2 linked regions of the Homo sapiens genome follow. The gene in region 2 interacts genetically with the main gene of each other region. Each region holds a gene or a part of one and is shown on either strand. Other genes may lie near its edges.

Region 1 (3,500 bases), on a different chromosome or scaffold from region 2:
GGGTGTGGATCACCTGAGGTCAGGAGTTCAAAACCAGCCTGACCAAGGAGGTAAAACCCCGTCTCTACTAAAATACAAAAATCAGCTGGGCATGGTAGCAGGCGCCTGTAATCCCAGCTACTCAGGAGGCTGAGGCAGGAGAAATCACTTGAACCCGGGAGGTGGAGGTTGCAGTGAGCCGAGATTGCACCATTGCACTCCAGGCTGGGCGACAGAGTGAGACTCAGCCTCAAAAAAAATAAATAAATAAAAGAAAGTGAAAAGCAAAAGCACAGAAAATAGGAAATAAAAAATAAAACAGGAGAAATTAGTCCAAGAATTATCAGCAGTAACAATAAACATATTGAACTCAAAGACTGATAGACTGGAGTAAAAGCATACTGCTATTTATAAGAGATACACCCAAACTAAAATAACATATATAAAGGCTGAAAATAAAGAAACAGAAGACATGTGAGACAACTACCAAGCGGCCATATTAACAAATAAAATAGAACTTAAGAAAAAAGTATTTATAGAGATGAATAAAGCATGTATGAGGGATATAATAATAAAACAATCTAATAAGGAAATATGATGATCGTATACCTATATGTAGCTAATATAGCCTTTGGATAAAACAAAAATCAAAAGAATTTTAAAGAGAAATTAACAAAACCAAGAATCATGAGATGTAAAAACATCTCAGTAACTAGATCACAAGATTAAAAAGAAAAAATTAGTTAAGATACATAATTTGAATAACACAATAGGTAACTTTGACTTAACTGAAAAATTTCTGAACACTTGAAAACAATTAACTATTTGATTGCATATCTACAGAATATTCACAAAAATGATCACATAGTAGAACAATACAAAGAAAGACTTCACCAAAGAATCAATAACAAATACACCTTATTCTTTAACCACAATGTTTAATAAGTTTAGAAATCAACAGTTCTATTTTATTAAGTTCAAAGATTTTTCTTTTTATACTTTCTTAACTTTACATGATTATAGTGGTCAAAAGAAATAGACTTACCTTGTGAGCGCTGAGGTTTCTGGTTTCATCTAGATCCAAAAACATGTCCAAATCACATCCTAACTTCCCAAAAGTGTTGACTGAGGAGCCAAAGGGTCTGACTATGCAGTCTGGAAAATACGCGGCGGCCATGTCTTCAATAAGAGAACAGGTGAGATATCGGAGCTTAGTGTTCTCCTCTGTTAGCTGGAACTCCTTCAAGAGAGTGTTCAGCTGATCGTCTATCTAGCTAGCCGAAACAAAACCAACAAAATAGAGAAAAAGTACAGGTCGCATAAAAAGTTACCATTTTACTTTCAAAGATTTGGTGGCGTTGAAGACCTACCTTAGAAATATGCAAAGCCTGGCGCAGTGGCTCACGCCTGTAATCCCAACATTTTGGGAGGCCAAGGCAGGTGGATCACCTGAGGCCGGAATTTCGCGACCAGCCTGACCAACATGGAGAAACCCAATCTCTACTAAAAATACAAAATAAGCCGGGCGTGGTGGCGCATACCTGTAATCCCAGCTACTCAGGAGGCTGAGGCAGGAGAATCGCTTGAACCCAGGAGGCAGAGGTTGTGGTGAGCCAAGATCGCACCATTGCACTCCAGCCTGGGCAACAAGAACAAGACTCCGTCTCAAAAAAAAATACTCTTTAAAAACCACTGAGAAGGCCAGGCGCGGTGGCTCATGCCTGTAATCTCAATACTTTGGAAGGCCAAGGCGGATCATATGAGGCAAGGAGTTTGAGATCAGCCTAAGCAACACAGCAGGACCTCGTCTCTATTTCACTAAAGAAATAAATTATATAATATTTTAAAATTTTTAAAAAGCTCTGAGGAATGCCACTAGCAAAATGAAAGTTGGCTAGAATTAAAACTTTGTAAGCGATGAGTATAAAGTATTGTTTTAAGAAAATGAAAGTAGTAAAGTACTCCAGAAGAGGTTAAAACAACCACGTTAGACATTTTAAACTCAAAGGGATGAAAGACCAATGTTAAAGGGCAAGAAAAACTAGAAATACTCAAGTAATGAAGGCCCAAGACCTCTCAGTTTCTCAGAATAACAATCCTGTCTATCCACTAGAAGACTGGCATTAAAATGATCACATACTGAAATTGTGTACTGGAGTATCTGAAGTGAAAAAAAATCGTAACTTCAAATGCTCTTATTTGAAACCAACATTGAAAATATCAACTGGCTGGGCACAGTGGCTCACACCTGTGAACTACTGGGAGGCCAAGGCGGGAGGATCGCTTGAGCTCAGGAGTGAGACCAGCCTGGGCAACGTGATGAAACCCTGACTCTACCAAAAAAAAAAATACAAAAACTAGCTGGGCATGGTGGAATGCATCTGTAGTCTCAGCTACTCAGAAGGCTGAGGTGGGTCACTTGAGTCCAGGAGTATGCAGCTACAGTGAGCTGAGATTGCACCACTGCACTCCAGCCTGGGCAACAGAGCAAGACTCCACCTCAAAAAATAACGTAACATAACATAACATAACAACATAACATTAACATAACAACATAACATTAACATAACATAACATAACGTAACATAACTGAACTGAACTGAACTAAGCATTCAACTCAAAAATAATAAAAGAGGCCGGGCTCGGTGGCTCATGCCTGTAATCCCAGCACTTTGGGAGGCCAAGGCAGGCAGATCACATGAGATCAGGAGTTAGAGACCAGCCTGGCCAACGTGGTGAAACCCCAAATCTACTAAAAATACAAAAAATTAGCCAGGTGTGATGGCGCGTGCCTGTAATCCCTGCTACTTGGGAGGCTGAGGCAGGAGAATCGCTTGAACCTGGGAGGCGGAGGTTGCAGTGAGCCACGATCAGGCCATTGCACTCCAGCCTGGGCAACAAGAGCAAAACTCTGTCTCAAAATAATAATAATAACAATAAAAGTAAAGGAAATAGATTAGAAGCAAAAATTTTCTTATTAGAAAATTAAACCTTGAAAATAATATTTTGATAAATAAAGCCATGAGTTGATTCTTTGGAAAGACTAGCAAGGTCTGGCAAGTCTGAGTAAGAAACACCAAGACAGGCCAGGTGCAGTGGCTCACGCCTATAATCCCAGCACTTTGGGAGGCCAAGGCGGGCGGATCACAAGGTCAGGAGATCGAGACCATCCTGGCTAACTCAGTGAAACCCCGTCTCTAATAAAAATACAAAAAATTAGCCGGGCATGGTGGTGGGCGCCTGTAGTCCCAGCTACTTGAGAGGCTGAGGCAAGAGAATGGCGTGAACCCAGGAGGTGGAGCTTGAAGTGAGCTGAGATCACGCCACTGCACTCCAGCCTGGGCGACAGAGCAAGAGTCCGTCTCAAAACAAAAACAAAAACAAACAAACAAAAAAACACCAAGACAAATACAAACAATATTTGAACACAGAAGAGACAGAATCTTGGGCCGGGCGTAGTGGCTCACACCTATAATCCCAGCAGTTTGGGAGGCCGAAGTGGGCACATCACCTGAGGTCAG
Region 2 (3,500 bases):
CCATTTGAATGGGGGCTTGTAAAACTACATATAACCTTAGTAACTACTGGTACTTTTAAAATCCTTCTCTTACATAGTTCTTCATTTTGCAAGAGAAGCCAAGTAACCTTAAATTTTTATATTTTTTGTGTGTGTTTTATAGAGATGGTGTCTTACTATATTGGCCAGGCTGTTCTCGAACTACTGGCCTCAAGCAATCCTCCTGCCTCGGCCTTCCAAAGTGCTGGGATTACAGATGTGAGCCACCGCACCCAGCCAACTTTTATATTCTTTAAAAATGAATAACTCTGCCAGGTATGGGGGCTTACACCTGTGGTCCCAGCACTTTAGGAAGCCAAGGCAGGAGGATCACTTGAGTCCAGGAGTTTGAGAACAGCCTAGGCAACATAGTGAGACCCCATCTCTACAAAAAAAAATTTTTTTTTAATTTAACCAGGTGTAGTGGTGTGCACCTGTTGTTCCAGCTCCTCGGGAAGCTGAGGCCAGAGGACTGCTTGAGCCCAGAAGGTTAAGGCTGCAGTGAACCGTGATCACACCACTACACTCCAGTCTGGGTGACAGAGTGAGACCCTATCTCAAAAAAAGAAAATGAACTCCAAATTCTTCTAATTTTCAAAAAACAAGGGAAGGGGAATCACTTTCTTAAGATTTTGCTTATATTTGTATATTCTCATAAATAAGAAAGCAGATCAGAGAGTGGGTTGATAGAAAGCCAAAATCATTTGTTTTAAGTTGCTACAGTTCCATAATACAATATGAAAGGAAAAACATTTCATCCTGTGTACCTACACACATCTTAAACCCAGCCCAAGGATTAGCAGGGACCTTACCTCTGGTTGTTTGTTATCTGGTTGTTCTTCATAGGAACATTGAAGTCGACTCTAAAAAAGAAAGATGCAAGACCATGATCAACTTACTGTTCCATCAAAGACTAGGAGATGCATTTTTAATGAACCAGTTAAATAAGTCAGAAATTCAAATCTCATCTTAAAAATAATCAGTGGCATTAAAAGTCAAAATAGTGGTTAGTCATGGGGAGGATGGCGGGAGTGGTGACTGGGATAACGACACCAGAGGCTTTGGGGTTCTGGTAATGTTCTATCTCTTAACCTCAGTGACCATACAAATGTGCTCATTTTGTGGTAATTCTTTGAACTTGTGATTTGTGCCCTTTTAGGTATGTATTCATACTTTAAAAAGAATTTTAAAAAAAAAACCTAACTTAAATCACAGGAACTAGCCCTGAAGATCTGGGAAGCTAAAGCTAGTTCCACCTAAAAAGATATCTGTCTGGGCCTGGCACAATAGTATCCGGGTAGCAGCTAGAGGGGTGAGGAATAATAAGGAATGCATCTTGATCCTAATTCCCTTGATACTATTTCTGGGTCCTCGTGAAACTAACATGACTCGAGAAAAAAATTAAAATAAAAATAAAACACACTAAGAGAAAATCATTCTTTTTGGAGAAAGCCTGGGGCCTTAAGACTAGGGGTCCTTCAAGCAATACACACAACATAAGACAGCCTCTTTCAAAAAGCCTGAGAAGAGAGGGTGGGACATGTGCCCCAGCCCACCTGACAAACAGGCAAATTAGAAGGGAAGTAATCAAGACGACACAAGAAAATAATGTACTGCAGTATCTCTTACCCAACAGATTACTATGTTATCATTCTTAAGAACCAATTATTCTGAACTCCTTGGAACCTCAGCCTACTTCAATGTGAATGAAAACAATAATGTATGGCAGCTATTTTTAAGGTTTAAGAGTTGTGCCTGCCATGATTATTTTTAAGTGATTTTTTTCTCATCGGGATGACAGTATCTACCTCGTAGTTACTGAGAGAATTAGTAAGTCAGCAATTTGTAAAGTGCTTAGAAGTGTACCTGACACACAGTAAATGCCATAAAAGTGTTGTTGTTATATGTTTCTCCAAAATGTAATTCTGTGATTTGACAAGTAAATCAACCACTACTAAAAACAGCTAACATCACTTGCAAAGGGACTACAGTGAAGTATGACCTAATCAAGAAGACTGCTGCTATCCTTGATTATAAGCCTCCATCTTTTTCCTCTGCCTTTTTAAATACCCCTTCCTCTCTAAGGCTAAGGCAATTACAAACTCCTACAGACATACTGAGAAGACCACCAATTTCCTATATCCACTAGGCCTGAACTCCAATCTACCTCACTGAAGAACAGCCTTTCCAAAGGTAGGCTGAGGAAAAATAATTCTATAGTAAAACATGTTTTAAAGTCTTCAAAATTAAAGGCAGTAAGCCTCTGATGAAAGAAATACACTCTACTTTGTTTCAGGCCACTTGATTCTCTGTCTTCTTTAAATATCCTGAACAAGGAGCCTGCCAGCCTTAAAGTACATTCCAAAGAAGAGAGAATATCCCATTACCATGGGTCATTTTCCCCCATGCAACCTCCCAGAAGGCCTATGCTCAAAAGGACTAATGGCAAAAGGATGGGCACAAGCCACTTCTTGCAGTGCTACTCTCTACCCCCAACCCTTACAGGGAGGAATATCTTTGGACAGAGACACCTAAGAAACTGTCTCATCTATCCAAGCTGCCATGGTGTCAGCTTACTAATGAATTAGACTTGGTTGATACTCTCTCCTCAATGCCCTCTGGATTACCTCCCCTTATCTCCTACACTCACAACAGCTCTGCTTTTAGCTTCTCCTCAGAGGACTCCAACACAGGAACTGCTCTTGCCTACAGATTCTACTTGTTCCATTTTACATAAAATATGCACAATTTTCTTTTTTTTTTTTTTCGTTTCCTTATAACACCCCTGAGCTTTGCTTCAGGCACAAAGTCAGTTATTACTACATATCCATCAGAACGAAAAATAACTAAAATAGCTGGTAATGAAGCAGAGAAACTGATTACTCAAATACTGCTGGTAGAAATGTGAAATGCTGCAGCCACCTTGGAAAACAGTCTGGGGATACCTCAAAAGGACGTGGCCCAGCAATTCCACTCCTAGGTGTTTACCCATGAAAAATGACAGCGTATGTCCATACCAAGACTTGTATACAAATGTTCACAGCAGCTGTATTTGTAATAGCCCCAAATCAGAAACAACCCTAATATCCTTCAATGATAGTTAAACAAACTATAATACAACCACACCATGGAATACTACTCAGCAATACACAGGTATGAACTTTTGATACATGTGACAATGTGGATAAATTTTGAGGACATTATGCTAAGTGAAAAAAGTTAATCCCAAAAGGTTATATACCATGTGATTCAATCTGTATAGTATTTTTGAAGTGACAAAATTTTAGAAACAGTGGACAGATCAGTAGTTACCAGGAGTCAGGAAGGGGGGTGGTTATTATTATAAAGAGGTAGCATGAAGGAGATCTTGGTGGTGATCTAATAGTTCTGTATCTTGATTGTGGTGGCGGTTACACAAATCTACGCACGTAATAAAATGGCATAGAACCATACACACTTTATACCAATGTCAATTTCCTACT

The links. Genes that interact genetically often act in the same process or in processes that back each other up.
Region 1: changes in PGK1 (region 2) and MTPAP together harm fitness more than expected from each alone (negative genetic interaction), as found in Homo sapiens cells (one large-scale study listed by BioGRID).

The regions. Positions count from the first base shown.
Region 1 is NC_000010.11:30,335,779-30,339,278, forward strand, and holds part of MTPAP (poly(A) RNA polymerase, mitochondrial precursor), read right to left. Parts: intron 1,250-3,500; coding exon 1,025-1,249; intron 1-1,024. UniProt on the Homo sapiens protein: Polymerase that creates the 3' poly(A) tail of mitochondrial transcripts. Can use all four nucleotides, but has higher activity with ATP and UTP (in vitro). Plays a role in replication-dependent histone mRNA degradation.
Region 2 is NC_000023.11:78,107,248-78,110,747, reverse strand, and holds part of PGK1 (phosphoglycerate kinase 1), read right to left. Parts: intron 882-3,500; coding exon 831-881; intron 1-830. UniProt on the Homo sapiens protein: Catalyzes one of the two ATP producing reactions in the glycolytic pathway via the reversible conversion of 1,3-diphosphoglycerate to 3-phosphoglycerate.